Regions from separate parts of the Homo sapiens genome. Here regions 1 and 3 are each linked to region 2. Evidence: fine-mapped expression QTL. A gene starts in region 2. Each other region holds a variant in brackets. All regions are shown on one strand. Distances are between the middles of the regions.

Region 1 (5,227 bases), 29 kb before region 2:
GATGGCCCCTCTGAAATGACAGGCATAGACAGTCCTGTTCCCATTTTATCAGCAAAGGGAAAGGGACTATAAATAGGTATGACCTAGATCTGGAACTTCCCAGGGAGAAAAAAAGGCCAAAGAGACAGTTCTTTAAAAGCCTGGGAATTGGGAAAGGAGTAGGGTGGAAAATTCCTGGGCTGACTGGCTTTCCAGGGTGAGGAAGTCTGAGGAAAGCCTGAAGACGAATCCATTTTACCTCCTCATATTTCACACTTAGGGATGTTTGTCCATTCTTACTCCAAAGAGTAGGTTTGGTTTTATGACAGATAAAATTTAATGATTCTTTGAAACAGTTCCAAGTAGAACAAGAGAAGGGAAATCCAGAGATTTGCCTAGATCGTATATTCAAAAGCACATTTTTCAGTGACTACTAGCTACAGGAAGTGTCCTCGGCTTAGGGAAGCAAAAAGGAGTAAGTACAGGTCCTGCTTTCAACAAGCTCAGATTCTAGTGGAGGGAGCAGACAAGTCAACCAAAAGAATTCTGCAGTGTGATGAGTGCCCCGGGAGTGTGGAGCCCAGGACATTTCAGGGACATGTGGGTGTGCTCACAGCGTGGCACAGAGTGGGCTTCCTCGGGAGCAGGGATTTTGGGCTGAGTCCTGGAAGATGGGTGGGTGTCAGCCAGACCAAGAAAGGGGAGGCCCTCCAAGGCCAGGGGAGAATATGGGCCAAGGTGTGGGGGCGTTGGGGAATGGTTGTTCAGGGAACTGCACACAGCTGAGTACAAGTGGAGCACAGAGCTGGGGAGAGTTGAGGGTTAGTCATCAGGGAGGCAGCTGTGCTCGGTATTGCTGGATCCTTGGGGTCAGGCGGTGGTGGCCCCAAAACGCAACCCCACCATTTATTGGCTATGACATTAGCCTGGAAATGAGACCTCTCCAAGCCCATATTCTCCTTGATTAAGTAGGGGCATGGTGGCTTGTGCCTCTAATCCCAGCTACTAGGGAGGCTGAGGCAGGAGAATGGCTTGAACTCAGGAGGCAGAGGTTGCAGTGAGCCAAGATCGTGCCACTGCACTCCAGCCTGGGCAACAGAGCAAGACTCCATCTCAAAAAAAAAAAAAAAAAATAGGCGTATCTACTCCTCCACAGGCCCATTGCAGGGAATAAATGAAGCAGTTACAGGCCCTTTCCTAGTACGTGCTTCCTATGTATGAGGTGCTGTGGAGGTGGGGAGAGAACAAGGGGGCTTCCTTGGGTCAGGGAGGAAAGGCCAATGTATGTAAGTGACTGTTGGCCTGACCCCTGAAGTGGCTGCAGGCTATATAGCATATGGACACTAATTTTCTAAGCTAAGGAAAAACAGTATCATAATCACCCAGACCCAAGATACAGCTTTGGGAAATAGCTTTGAAGGCAAGAATACAAAATAACCAGCCTGAAACAAGCCATCCAGTGCCTTCTTATCACTAAATAGGATGAGCTTTGGAGTAGGATTTTTAATGACTGTAATAAGAAATACAGTTAAAAACAAAAAGAGGAGGTTGGTTTGGGTGGCTTGGCTGCCTTGGGCTACTGAGGAGCCCCCTGGTGCTGGGCCAGGAAGCAGAGGAACAGGGGAGGGATGCAGTCCTTTGGGCTTTCTGCCTACCTGGTCCAGGATCAAAGTGAATGAGTTTGCTCTGGCATCTCATTACATATATTAAGCTGTAATTAGCCCTTCTTTCTTCCTCTTCATGCTCTTGTGGATTGGAAAGGCCAAATAGGGCCCCTTCTCTCAGTGGCTCCTCCCTGGGCAGCTGTGGGTTCCAAGTCTAACACTTTGGTTAGTACCCTTGGAAATGCAGTGCCCTGGAAACCCACAAAGATCCCACGGAGGGCAGTGATCCTATTCAGATTTACAAACCCAACTCACCCCGCCCGGGGCCGAGGGTCTTTTTCTGGGGTGGGAGGGAATTGGGGGTGCTTGTGTTGGTGGGACACTTTGTCTGGGTGTGGGTGGCTTAAGTCTTGGGTCAGAGGTGAGCCGTGAGCAGCTCTCACCACAGTGCATGAGGGTGCGATGTCCCATGTCCTCCAACCGGTGATCATGGTAGGGAGTTAGTTTTCTTCTCAAAGTGCTGCTTACCTTATCTGAACTGAGGGTGGCAGCTGCTGTGGTGGGCACAGAAGGACTGTGCTCTTGCCCTTGTTGGCTTCCAGCAGCTGTATGAATGTGGACAGTCCGTTTTCCCCTGGGTCAGGGTCCCTCACCTGACCTGTGAGAGGACAGGCTGTGCTGGGCTGTCTGTAAGGTCCTGTCCGCTCTGAAAGTCTGTCTGCATATGCCTGTTTGTCATTGTGAAAGGGCTGTTCACTCTTCCAGGTACCGGCCCTATTTGATGAGGTGGCCATATATTTTTCCGATGAGGAATGGGAAGTTTTGACGGAGCAACAAAAGGCCCTCTACCGGGAAGTCATGAGGATGAATTATGAAACTGTCCTGTCCCTGGGTAAAGCTGTGTTTTCCTTTGTCTCCTGGAAGCTCTGAGCCCAGAGAATTGTTTCCATGCCTCTCTTCTCTGGTATATCCAATGTCCCTCTCTCCTGAACTTAGACTCTGCCTCCTCAATGTCTGTGCCCAT[T/A]TATTCCAATTTTTGATTTGGGCAGTATATCAATATTGTGTCACCCTACTCGGCAATCCGTGCTGCCTCAGAACTGCCCCCATTCAACCCAGGCATTCACATTTAAGGATAAAAACCATGTAACCTTAGAAATGTCACCATGGATCTGGGCCTGTGCCTCACTGTTCCTTACGAGAGAAGGCAGGCGTTAATGTTACCCTGTCAGCCTCAGAAGTTTGGGGACATACCCTCCCAAAGACTGTTTGCTCCTCTCCCCAACTTCCACCCCAAATTGATATCACACATCTTATCAGCAGAATGTAATCATTTGAAGAGATTTCCCAGTTTGCTTATACAGGTACCAAAATGTTAATTGGATCAGCAGCTGCATTCACCCTTCTCCCTGCTAAATGCAGTTCTTTTATTGTTGGTGCCAATACCATCCCTCATTAGGAGAGATCTACCCATTCCTTTAGACAGACCTATTTTCCATTATCTTTTTTCTTTAAGTATCCCTGAGCCTTTTTCCCCTTGTTTTTCACAAAGAAGGGGAGAGTGGCTCTTAAGTATTTTGAAGTACTTATTTTGGTAGTGCTCCAGGACAGTAACACACAGCTGTTACCTATTTTATTTCCTATAAACAGAATTCCCATTCCCTAAGCCAGACATGATCACCCGTTTGGAAGGGGAGGAGGAGTCTCAGAATTCTGACGAGTGGCAGCTCCAAGGAGGCACCTCTGCAGGTACTACAAGTAAAGCAGTTCAGCGTCCATCCAGCTGGGAACATTGTGGAGTGGGATTTTCAGTGTACATTCCACGGGGTATTTAAGAGGTAGAAGGATTATGGGTTTTGGAGTTTTGAAATCTCCCTCTTTGCAGTGCTAAATGTGTGACAGTGTGTGACAGGCAACTGCTTTTACCTCAGAGCTTCCATTCTTCCTCTATCAGCTCTGAGTAACAAGACTTGATGTATGACCTTGTTTGTGGATGAAGCAAAATGAGGCTTGTGCAGCATTTGGTCTAGTGCACCTTCTGGCTGAACAGGGCTCCCTCAGTGGCGTACCATGTGCCTCTGCAAACTAAGAATAGTGAGAGGAAGCACACTTCCTGAGTTACCTGGCTCCCTGTCCATCTCATACTGGATAGAAAAAGCAATAGCAATCATAGCATACATTTGAGCAAATGTATCTAAGAAGTACCTAGTCCTTTGTCAAGAAAAATGGTTATTGAGGCCACAGTTGAATAAATATAGCATTGCCTCCAGACGGCCAAAATAGTTTTATCTTTTCTCCGGAAGTAAGAGTTTAAAATGCCATATTTCACTGACTCTGAGACATGTTTTTCTCCCATTGCTTTACTGTTTCTGAAATTGAGAATGCCTCTTAAAATCAGTGGCATGTCATAGCTTAATTAGTAGTGTTTTCTTTCTTAATGGCACATAATGATGCATCCTACAACTGATGACATTTTAGTTTGGGTGAGATAGGGTAATTTCCCCAAATCATATTCAACTTCTGTGACCACCTTCTAAATATAAAGTGAAACCTGGTTGCACCATTAATGTGCAAGAACTAATTTTCTGCCTTATAAGCTTAACTTTGCTAAGTGTGGTTTTTGCTGTAGGTTTTCTTGGTTCTAAAGGGATATGATTCAGGCCATGATGCATCTCTGTAATATTATATGGTAGTATGGTTAACATTTGGCTTCTCATTCACATAAAAAGTATTTTGATGCAAACATGGCCCCCAAATTATTTGGTCCAAGCTTGGTTCCTCTGTTGAGTTCCCAGCTCTGCCACTTTCTGGCTTGGCTACCTTGGTGCATTATGTAACCTCTGTAGCCTCCCCTTCTTCATCTGCAAAGAAGGAACAGTGATACTTAGAGTTACTCTATTAAGAGAACTAGGTGTGGGTAGTCCACATAAATTGGCATATGGAAAAGGACTTAGGCAATGTTACCTGTTATTAAAGTTACTACTTTTGGTGAACTTCAGATTAAGGTATTCTTAGCATTTCAACCCCCAAAAATCAGGGTATAAGCCATTTTACTTACTGGCATTATTTTTGCCCCTCACTATTTGTCTCCCAGAAAATGAAGAATCTGACGTAAAGCCTCCAGACTGGCCAAACCCAATGAATGCTACCTCCCAGTTTCCTCAGCCTCAGCACTTTGACAGCTTTGGCCTCCGTCTGCCTCGGGATATCACAGAGCTGCCCGAGTGGAGTGAGGGGTACCCCTTCTACATGGCCATGGGCTTCCCAGGGTATGACCTCTCGGCTGATGACATAGCTGGGAAGTTTCAGTTCAGCCGGGGCATGCGCCGCAGTTACGACGCAGGGTTCAAGCTGATGGTAGTGGAATATGCTGAGAGTACCAACAACTGCCAGGCTGCCAAGCAGTTTGGAGTATTGGAAAAAAACGTTCGAGACTGGCGCAAAGTGAAGCCACAGCTTCAAAACGCCCACGCCATGCGGCGGGCATTCCGAGGCCCCAAGAATGGGAGGTTTGCTCTGGTGGACCAGCGTGTGGCCGAATATGTCAGATACATGCAGGCCAAAGGGGACCCCATCACCCGGGAGGCGATGCAGCTGAAAGCTCTCGAAATCGCCCAGGAAATGAACATTCCAGAGAAAGGGTTCAA
Region 2 (5,227 bases):
CTACCACCGAGGACCACACTTAAATAGGTTGTGCAAACCAAAGCAAACTGCTCATGGAGGAAATATAAGAAATGACTGTACAGTACAAGAGTATTACTGACTATTTAACCCAGAGGTACTTTTTAAGGAGAAGGGAAAAGAACAATGAGAGAATGGAAAAACAAATTTAGAACTATACGTTACCATTAACTGTTTCTGGCATAAAAATCTCTTTTGATTGCATTTTAGTGGGGATTCACACTCCAGATGCACCAAATTTAGCTTCAGCATCAGTATTTGACCAACATCAGACAGTCGGCTTTGGCCTTTAAAAACTAAATAAGGAATGCTAACTTCAAAAACACTTTTGGCAGCCCTGAACCTGTAACTGATGAGTATGGGATGACAGAGGTCACCATTGCATCTAATCAGGGTTAAAGGCAATCATACACAAGCCAGGTCCTTCAGATTTATTTTGGTATGTAAACGTTTGCTTTCAAATATTTGTAAGCATTCTAGATGGAACAGAGTGAAATGCCCCTTATGTGCTTAAAAATGTAAATTTTGGCTGGGCGCGGTGGCTCACGTCGGTAATCCCAGCACTTTGGGAGGCCAAGGCGGGTGGCTCACGAGGTCAGGAGTTCAAGACCAGCCTGGCCAAGATGGTGAAACCCCATCTCTACTAAAAATACAAAAATTAGCCGGGCGTGGTGGCAGGTGCCTGTAATCCCAGCTACTCAGGAGGCTGAGGCAGAGAAGTGCTTGAACCCAGGAGGTGGAGGCTGCAGTGAGCGGAGATCATGCCACTGCACCCCAGCCTGGACGACAGAGCAAGACTCCATCTCAAAAAAAAAAAAGGTAAATTTTATCAGTCGGTATTACAAAAGTAAAAAGCTACAGTAATTAGGGTGAAAGCTGTCAATTTTACCTATTAAAATAAGTAAGAATATTTAATTCAATAAGCACAGTGAACATCAATATCGAAAGACAATTTTCGGTGGTACACTATAGTCGGGTGTGGTGGCTCATGCCTGTAATCCCAGAACTTTGGGAGGCCAATGCGGGAGGACTGCTTGAGGCCAGGATTTGAGATCAGCCTGGGCAACACAGCAAGACTTTGTCTCTGAAAAAAAAAACTTTAGCCAGGATTAGCGGGGCGTGCCTACAGTCCCAGTTATAGGCTCACAGCAGGGGAGGATCTCTTGAGCTCAGGAGATCAAGGTTGCTGTGAACTGTGTGATCAGGCCACTGTACTTCGGCCTCTGCCACAGAGCAAGACCCCAACCCCCAAACACAAAGTGAAACATATCTCTGGGCGTAAATAAATGTTCACCAAAAATTAAATAATTATGCTAAAATAACAGTTTAGATTTTAATTTTAATCTTTTTATAGTTTCCATTATTATCTTGTTAGGATGAAAAGTAGACTGTCAACTCTGCCACCCCAAAATTTCACATGAAGGAAAAACTCCAAAATTCATGTATGACATCCAACCTAAGTAATTTCAATCCAGTAATAATAAAGAACAGAGAAGGATGAAAAGAAAGTATTGGAGAAAAATTAAGTATTCCCAAATTGCTCCTCCACCAACATCATTTAAAAGTATGCATCCACTGAGTAATGCAAATGTGTAGAATACCAGAGAAGCCATCTAGCAGCAACAACACAGGCACTGTAATTTTAAACGTTTATATTTGCTTCCTATATTTTTGAAAAATAAAGTTGTAATAACAACGTTTTGAAAATTTCCAAACTCTTCCTTGTATCCCAGAGGTTCCTTTTTTGCTCTTTGGCTTTGGCTTTGACTGGATACTGATTTTACCCTTGGCCATTCTGCACCTAACCTGACTGTGCACTAGGTCCCCTGCCATAACCTGGATGAAGGTCTGGCTGAGCGTCTCTGGGATCCTTTACAGCCCCTCTAATGCATCAGTCGGGAATCAAAAGCGTGGGTCCCAACTCTGACAGTGACTTTTGAAGAGTTACTTGTCCGCACTAGGTCTCAGTCTTCTCATCTGTCAAATGGGAATAACAACTGTACCTATCTCACATCTGTTGTAAGGATTAGATAATATATTTAGAGAGCTTAAAATGTTTAAAATGTCCGCTACTGCTATCATCACTATAATTGTAGTGTTCAATGACTGTGATTTCACCAGAGGGTCCGTCTGCCTTACGAAATTGCTGTCAAAAGAGCTTACCAATAATCCGTAGCAGATCACACCAGCTCAACAGGCCTCCACCTCCAGGAAGCCCTCCAGGGGCGGGCCGCCCTGCGCTATGCCCTCTGGCTGGACGCGTAGGGCTCCGGCTCACTCCGCCCAAGTCAGCCTCCCGCATCCCGCACGCCCGCGCTGGGGCCCGCACCTGCTCAGCAGGCCCTTGGGTGCGAAGTGCGCTTCTCCCGCCCCACCCAGGGCAGACAGTCCCGAGCAACGGCGCCCGCCGATGTCTCCCGGGCGCCCAGGAGGCCCGGTCTCTCCAGGGCGGTGAGTTCAGGTGGCCCGCCCCGCCCCGGCCGGAGAAACCCCGAAGCCCCGCCGCCGCGGACTCCAGGCTGCACAGGCCCCCGGGCGACGCGGGCGTCTCCGGGGCGGGCTGGCAGCCCGAGGCCAGGAGAGCACCCGCGTGTTGGCCTGGACGCTGTGCTAGGGCAGCTCTTACTGTTTCACGTTGTCCCCCAGGGCCTCGCTTAAGTTCTTCTTGGCCGCCTCCAGCTCGCTCACAAAGGTCGCCATTGCTCCGCGTGTCTCAGCCCGACCGCAGACCGCCCGGCCACCGCGATCAACAACCCAAAAACCAACTCGGCGGAAGGCCTTGGCTCTGGAAGCTAAGCCGGCCGCCGTCAGTCCCGCCCCCAATCTCTCAGAAGTCGTTTGTTTGGTTTTCGGCTCCGCCCGCCTTTTCGCAGGGAAGGTGCCCGGCCAAACTCTGCTCTCTTCCTCCCGCCCCTCGAGTCACGTGATCCGCTTCACCTTGTCGCGCGCCCATCCTAAACCCGCGCGCCCCGCCTCGGCTGCAACGTTGCTGACAGGCTGGCGTGTCCCAAGCTCTTTCATTCTGTTACCGCTGGGGCAATTCCGAATTCAGCCTGCTGTTCTTCTGCCTGGAGGAGTACCTTACCCCTCCATTTAAAAAAGTAAATGCAGTATCAGTTTTACTCTTTCCTTGCCTTATTTTTCCCCGAGCACTAACCGTCTCATATGACATTTAGTTGATTTATCTTGTAAATGTTATGGCTCGAGGACAGGAGTTGTGTTTTATTCACTGTTACCCGCAATTCTCTAGAGCAGCGCCTGGCACATAGTGGATGCTTAATAAGTATTTGAGTAAATGAGGTAACTATGTAAAATTTGGAAAATACACAGAAAGATAAAGATAAAAAGAAGGAAAAAGTGTTTTACCACTCCCGGACAAACACTTAACTGAGAGAGATTTCTCCTTCACTTCGCACACTCCCATGACTTAAAATATTCTATGTTCAATTTTGCACGTTTTTAAACTTAAGGATTTATCTGTAGTATTACATTGTCTTTAGAATAATTTTAATGACAACATATTAAATACCCCCACAGATAGAAGGTACACAACTTGTTTCCCAATTGTTAGACTGTGTCCATTTCTTCTCTATTAAAAAGCAATACTGTAATATTGCTTTTGAAGCATATAGCATAATGAAGCAAAACTTCTTTATGCATAAAACTTTTCCTCCTTTAGGATTATTACTTTAGCATAGAGTCCCACACATAGAATTACTGGATCAAATGATGGGAATATTTATAAATGCCTTGGTGTATATTGTCAAATTGCCTCCCAAAGTTTTTTAAATAATCCTAGATAGCTTTTAGATCTTGTGTAATTTCTCCAAAGATGTCCCCTTAAGTTCATTCATTCAACTTCCTCACTGCCCAACCTAAACCCACAAGCCCTGTCCTGGCTGCAATGCCAGCCGGGCACCTTCTCTTCACTTGAATTCATACAGTGAGCTCCTATTATGTGTCTGGAACTCTTTGAGTACTGGAGATACACAGGTGAAAGGAGATACAAAGGTCAGGCAAAGTCTTCCTCTCTGTGTCAAAACTCTGGGTAAGTTTTGACACATTTAAAAAATATCCACTTAAGTTTTCCATGGCTCCCCACGCTCTGCTGAACAAATTCCAGACTCCAGCATTCAAATGTTCTCATGATCTGAACTCACCCTACCTGTGTACCTCACACACCACTGGCCTTCCCACATAACCCCACACTTGGACTCAGCATTCTAGTTAACTTGACTTTAACAAATCACATGGCTCTTCCCCTTTACGCATATCTCCTCTCTGCTGGTTTTGAGACTTATGGTTGGCTACCTCCATTTTTTTTGAATCAGGTTCAAACATATATATGAATCTATTCAAGGATCAAGTCAACAGGACTAGGAAAGGCTACAGATAGTTGGGTACATCTTCCAGGAAGAATCCCTGTTTCTCATTTGTCTCTAGCCACGAAGAAAGATAGGCCTCAAAGATTTTCTTTTTGAACCCATGCTTGACAATACTCATACGTCTAGCTCAATTAAATATCCCTTTCTCTCTCAGCACTTATACACCTATTAACACTAATTTTACTACAGTTTTTCAGTTAAATGTCCATTTAAACTGTAATGTTAGACAATATAATATACATAAATGGACATCTGACCAAACAATTTAATATTGAGAGGTGAAGCCGCCTGGGCTTCTGGGCTGGGTGGGGACTTGGAGAACTTTTCTGACTAAAGGATTGTAAACGCACCAATCAGCGCTCTGTGTCTAGCTAAAGGTTTGTAAACGCACCAATCAGCACTCTGTAAAAACACACCAATCAGCGTTCTGTGTCTAGCTAAAGGTTTGTAAACGCACCAGTCAGCACTCTGTAAAAACACACCAATCAGCATTCTGTGTCTAGCTAAAGGTTTGTAAACGCACCAGTCAGCACTCTGTAAAAACGCACCAATCAGCGCTCTGTGTCTAGCTAAAGGTTTGTAAACGCACCAGTCAGCACTCTGTAAAAACGCACCAATCAGCGCTCTGTGTCTAGCTAAAGGTTTGTAAACGCACCAGTCAGCACTCTGTAAAAACGCACCAATCAGCGCTCTGTGTCTAGCTAAAGGTTTGTAAACACACCAGTCAGCACTCTGTAAAAACGAACCAATCAGCGCTCTGTGTCTAGCTAAAGGTTTGTAAATGCACCAATCAGCACTCTGTAAAATGGACCAATCAGGATGTG
Region 3 (5,227 bases), 80 kb before region 2:
CCAGGCTGGAATGTAGTTGCACATCTCAGCTCACTGCAGCCTCCATCTCCCAGGTTCAAGTGATTCTCCTGCCTCAGGCTTCCGAGTGGCTGGAATTACAGGTGATCACCACCACACCCGGCTAATTTTTTGTATTTTTAGTAGAGACGGGGTTTCGCCATGTTGACTAGGCTGGTCTCGAACTCCTGACCTCAGGTGATCCACCCACCTCAGCCTCCCAAAGTGCTGGGATTACAGACATGAGCTACCATGCCCGGCCCAGAAGTCCTAATTTGATCAACCAATTAATTGAAGAAGATCCCATGCTTTCTTTTTTCAAGTGGGATATTTTATAGCCTAAACTGAACCTCTTGAAGCTGTAAGTATTCCCAAGAGCTGATCACAAACTGAAAGACCTCTTTTTACCTTCTCGTTACTGTCTCACACAAAATTAAGGTCAAAAAAGCATATTTCTAAAAGTCTCAGCCATTCATTCAATGAATATATTCAAGTACCTACTATGTGCTAGACACTGGAATCATAGAAGAAAACAAGACAAAACTAGTCCATGTCTCTACAGTTTAAATCTAGCCTCTAGGGATTCCCCACTGTGCAAGTGACAATTTTTCTAGTATTGACAAGATTTTACATCCAATCCACATCCTAATGAGAATTGTGATTTGAATCCATCATCTTTGTGAACACAAAGGCAATTAAAGAACGGGTCCTACTTTTGGGAATTCAGTCAGTGCACTCTGGTGAGTGGGTGAGAAAAAGCTGGGAGGGGAGGCTGAAGTCCAGGCTTGAAGAGAATGGTTCAAAAGTTAGATTGTGGTGAGGGCAAGAGCGCATCACTGAAGCTTTGGGGCAGGGAGATGACATAATCAGAAGTATTTTGATAAAATAACTTTCAGCAGAAAGAAGAATGAACTGACACAGGGAGAAACAAGCTAAAGGTTCTGCAGGGTTCCTACACTGAGCCAACTTTGAGAACTTGGGGCTTGTTAGTTTTGTTCTTACTCATACCTAACATTTGCTTTTTCTCTTTTTTCTTCCTCTACTTCTTGCCCTCGTTTGCCTGCTTCTATCAAATTTCCCTACTTAACAACTCTGCCTGTTTTCCCTTCCTTATGATTTATACAGTAATTACTATATATAACTTTTAATATATTTGATATATTTTCTATCTGGCCCCGAAATTAATACTCCGTACAGTTTCCCAACAATAACAAAATAACCTAAAAGTCTATGTTAGAATAACTGCATCTTAGGGACCTAGATACTTGGAATATTTTCCTGTTTATAATCAATATATAATTTTATCATATACATTTAATATTTCTTCATTTCTATAAAAAGACATTCAAAATTCTAAAAATAATCAGTATCACTCTAATTCCTCTCTTAAGCAAATTCAATAAAGATTACCAAATGTTCTTGTGATACAAATTGCAACAATCATCCCAAGGATTTGCTTTTCATTCAGAAAATGTCCAGTGAATTTCCTGAGTTTCAGACACGGTCTTCTCTATCTCTGTTGTGTATCAGCAACTCCATTTCCCAATGTTAACTGAGAGCAGTCACCCCAGCCAATACAGTAATCCTCTTCTCCGCTTGTTGGTTTAGTGGCATAAGAACCCCAAATTGTTTGATGTTGGATGTTCAATTGTTATGGGACCATTGCTGTATCCTTCTAACTATCTATACTGTGTAACAAATCACCCCCAAAACTTAGTAGCTTAAACCACCATGGTTTATTATTTCTTACAAGTCTATAGGATAGGAATTCAGGCAGGCCTCAGCTGAAGCATTCTTTCTTCATATGGCAACAGGTGGGATAACTCAGCTGCATTCACCTGGTGGCTAGCTGGGCTGGAATATCCAAGAAGGTTTTACTCACATGTCTGATTCCTTGGTGTTTCTCCACATAATTTATCTCACTCTCTTTCTCCACATAGTTTCTCATTATTCAATAGTCCAATCTTCCTTATAATATGCTATCTTCCTCCAAAGAAAAAAACTGATACTGCCAGTTGTCTGGGTTTGAAAGTCCCAGAACATCACTTCTGCCACATTCTATTGCCTGCCCTCCACTCCCACCCCCAGTGTGGATGACCTTCATCCAATCCACTGAAGGACCAAATAGAACAAAAAAGTGTAGTAAGGGAGAATTTACTCTCATCTCTCTGGTTGTCTTTGAGCTGGGACATTGGTGTTCTCCTGTCATCAGACTCAGACCAAAACTTAGAAACACCACTGGCACTCCTGGTGCTCTGGCCTTCAAACTCAAACTAGAACTATACCATAGGTTCTTCTGGGTCTCCAGTTTACTAGCTACAGATTGTGGGACTT[C/T]TCAGTCTCCATAACTTCATGAGCCAATTACTTATAATCTCTCTCTCTCTCTCTTCCTCCCTCCATCTATATATCTAATGATTGGACCCACGTACTCCAGGCCCATGAAAGAAACAACTTTATATATCAATAAATATATAGATATGTAGATATTTCCTTTAGTTCTATTTCTCTGGAGAACTCAAACCAGTATAGATTTTGGTACTAAGAATGATTCCAGAGGAAGAAATTTAAGAATGTTTTTTCTGAGAATATGTTTTCTGAATTGGTTCTAGAGTTTCTGGAATTGGCGCTGTAATTCAATTAGATTTTAAAATGCTAATGGGTCCATCTTACCCTGTCCCTTCCCATCAGCCATGAGTTCCACGCAGTTCAACAAGGGGCCTTCTTACCAGCTTTTTGCCGAGATCAAGAACCAGCTCCTGTTCAAATGCGACCCTCAGAAGCAGGCGGCGCTCTGCAGCTGGATCGAGGGACTCACCCGCCTCTCTTTCAGCCCCGACTTCCAGAAGAGTCTGAAGGAAGGGATTGTCTTATGCACACTCATGAACAAGCTGGGCTCAGTCCCCAAGATCAACGGCTCATGCAGAACTGGCACCAGCTAGAAAATCTCTCCAACTTCATCAAGGCCATGGTTGGATACGACATGAACCCCATGGACCTGTTCGAGGCCAACGACCTGTTTGAGAGTAGGAACATGACGCAGGTGCAGCTGTCTCTTCTAGCCCTGGCAGGGAAGGTCAAGACAAAGCTGCTGCAGAATGGGGTGGACGTCGGGGTCAAATACTCGGAGAAGCAGGAGCGGAACTTCGACGACGCCACCTTGAAGGCCAGCCAGTGCCTCACTGAGCTGCAGATGGGCACCAACATATGTGCCTGCCAGTCGGGCGCGACAACTTAGGGCACGATGAGGCATCTCTACCACCCCAAGAACCGTATCCTGCCCTCTGGACCACTCGACCATCAGCCTCCAGATGGGTGCAAACAAACGCTCCAGCCAGGGGGCATGACGGCTCCCGGGACCCCGCAGCACATCTACAACACCAAACTGGGAGCCCACAAGTGTGACAACTCCTCCATGTCCCTGCATATGGGTGACACGCAGAGTGCCAACCACAGCGTCCAGGGCTTTGGCCTGGGCCAGCAGATATACTATCCCAAGTACTGCCCTCAAGGCCTGCAGCCAGTGGGGCTCCCTTGGATGCCGGCAACTGCCCAGGACCAGGGGAGGCCCCCGAGGATCCCCCCTGCTCCCAGGAGGAGGCCACTACTGAGGCCCCCGAACATGCTGGCTCCCTACATCATCGCCCTGTCTGGGTTTGGGGGATTTTCCTGTATTTTCGTCTTTCTTTTTTTTTTTTAACCTGTTCAGTGCTGCCAACCGAGGGTCTGTGAGTAGCTGCGTGGGGTCAAGCAGCAGGGTTATTTTTGTTTGTTTGTTTTAATTTTTTTTTCCCTCCTGCCTTAATTCCTTCACAGGACTGAGACACCGGGCTTGGGAGGAAGGGGTCAAGGCTGTATCTGGATGAATGTGAAGTGGGGGTCGTTGCCAGGGCACATTCAGGCTGTGGGCTGAGCGGTGCAGGGGAGAAGAGGTCTGGGCAGCGAGGGGAGCCGGCAGCAGGAGGTTTCCGGTTGCTTCTCCTTTTCCCTTTTGTCCACCTATCAGTTTGTGGTTTCTGTACCTACAGAAGTTTCAGAAGTATTAACAAAAGAAAAATATTTCTTTTTTCCTAGGGAATGGGGCGGGGACAGTGGAGAGGGTGCTGGGAAATGGGTGCCCTGGGAGAAGGCCAAGGCCAGGATGCTAAAATATCTTAGGCTCATGAGTGACTGGATTTCCCTAGGACCCTCAGACCTGCACAGGGGCCGGGTGGGGAAACAGGCTTATGCAAGACAATGGGGTAGTGAGTCAATTGGGGCTAAGCCTGACCCCTCCCCATGCTCACCAACCCCCCCATTTGTGTCCCTCATCAGATTTTAAGGAGCCCCCAGCCCTCCTTCTCCCCTTCTGGGACTAACCAACTGCAAGGCTCCGTCTCCCCCCACCACAAGCCCTGCCAAGTACTGCTCAGGGGCCCCAGCCAAGAGCCCTGCACCCTTAAATAATGTGAAATACCAACTGTGGACCAAATGCAATAGAAACCTCTGTTTTTAGGAAGAAATAAGAATAGTAACTATTATTAATAAATAAATAAAAACAAAAATGCCAATGACTCTATTTCTAGGAGTAAAGAGAACACTGATAATCCATGGTATGATCTAGCAATAGAAATTTGCAAAATATCTCCATCGGATACTCCTAATCGACCACTTACAAAAAGCAAGGAGTTAGGTGACTGTGTATGTAAAACTTTCAAACATGTTTGCAAAACTAATAAATATATGAAGTTGGTTGGTTGCTCCTAATGTCTGTGGACAAAGTGGTCACAAAAAAAGAGACACTCAGGAATTGTAATTCCTCAAGTACCTCGTAAATGACCTGAAATCTCCTATGTGTTTCCTGAAGAAAACTTTTATCTCCTGTAACCATAGGACTGAGATTGCTAATAATAAAAATGACAATTCAGAATTCCTTTTAGTTACACAATTTTCGGAGGTTCCTGCATGCTGTCTCTGCATTCTAGGACAAACCTAAATCTTCTAGAGAAGCATCTGAAGACATGGACTCTTCTATAAAGAAGCTGAGGGGGAGGAAGTGATTGGTTTTCATCAGGAAGTTATAGGAATAAGACTCCCTCACCATGATTATTATTTAATCAAAAGTTTGCTATCCATCACTCTATGAGCTAACCACTCAGAACTTGTGGGCCCTTTTATACACACAATGGTGACTACCAAGCTCCTCCACCCCAATGTTGTGAGCTCAAAAAAGGTCCTACCTGGACTTAATTGT

Which allele goes with the higher level. Alleles are on the strand shown, and positions count from the first base shown. SD is a standard deviation of normalised expression in the study named. Not every link is listed here.
With allele C in place of T in region 3, the expression in prefrontal cortex of the gene that starts at base 2,749 in region 2 is higher (moderate effect, 0.54 SD a copy in ROSMAP).

What was found. PIP is the estimated chance that this variant, and not a neighbour inherited with it, causes the effect. A credible set is the group of variants that fine-mapping cannot tell apart.
Region 1: its variant is the best candidate, but not a certain one, in a credible set for the expression of TADA1 in aorta (GTEx, PIP 0.76).
Region 3: its variant is the best candidate, but not a certain one, in a credible set for the expression of TADA1 in prefrontal cortex (ROSMAP, PIP 0.74).

The regions. Positions count from the first base shown.
Region 1 is chr1:166,844,264-166,849,490 of GRCh38, forward strand. It overlaps POGK (pogo transposable element derived with KRAB domain), which reads left to right. Exons shown (of 6, transcript NM_017542.5): 3 at 2,349-2,475; 4 at 3,231-3,329; 5 at 4,675-5,227. Among named protein-coding and RNA genes, the nearest start is that of POGK, 7.4 kb to the left of the region's middle. The variant T/A (reference allele first, on the strand shown) is at 2,608.
Region 2 is chr1:166,873,516-166,878,742 of GRCh38, forward strand. TADA1 (transcriptional adaptor 1) reads right to left here and starts at 2,749. Exons shown (of 8, transcript NM_053053.4): 1 at 2,645-2,749. The coding sequence starts at 2,718. RefSeq lists silencers at 2,206-2,605, 2,636-2,685 and an enhancer at 3,086-3,135.
Region 3 is chr1:166,793,579-166,798,805 of GRCh38, forward strand. It overlaps the pseudogene CNN2P10. Among named protein-coding and RNA genes, the nearest start is that of POGK, 43 kb to the right of the region's middle. The variant C/T (reference allele first, on the strand shown) is at 2,332.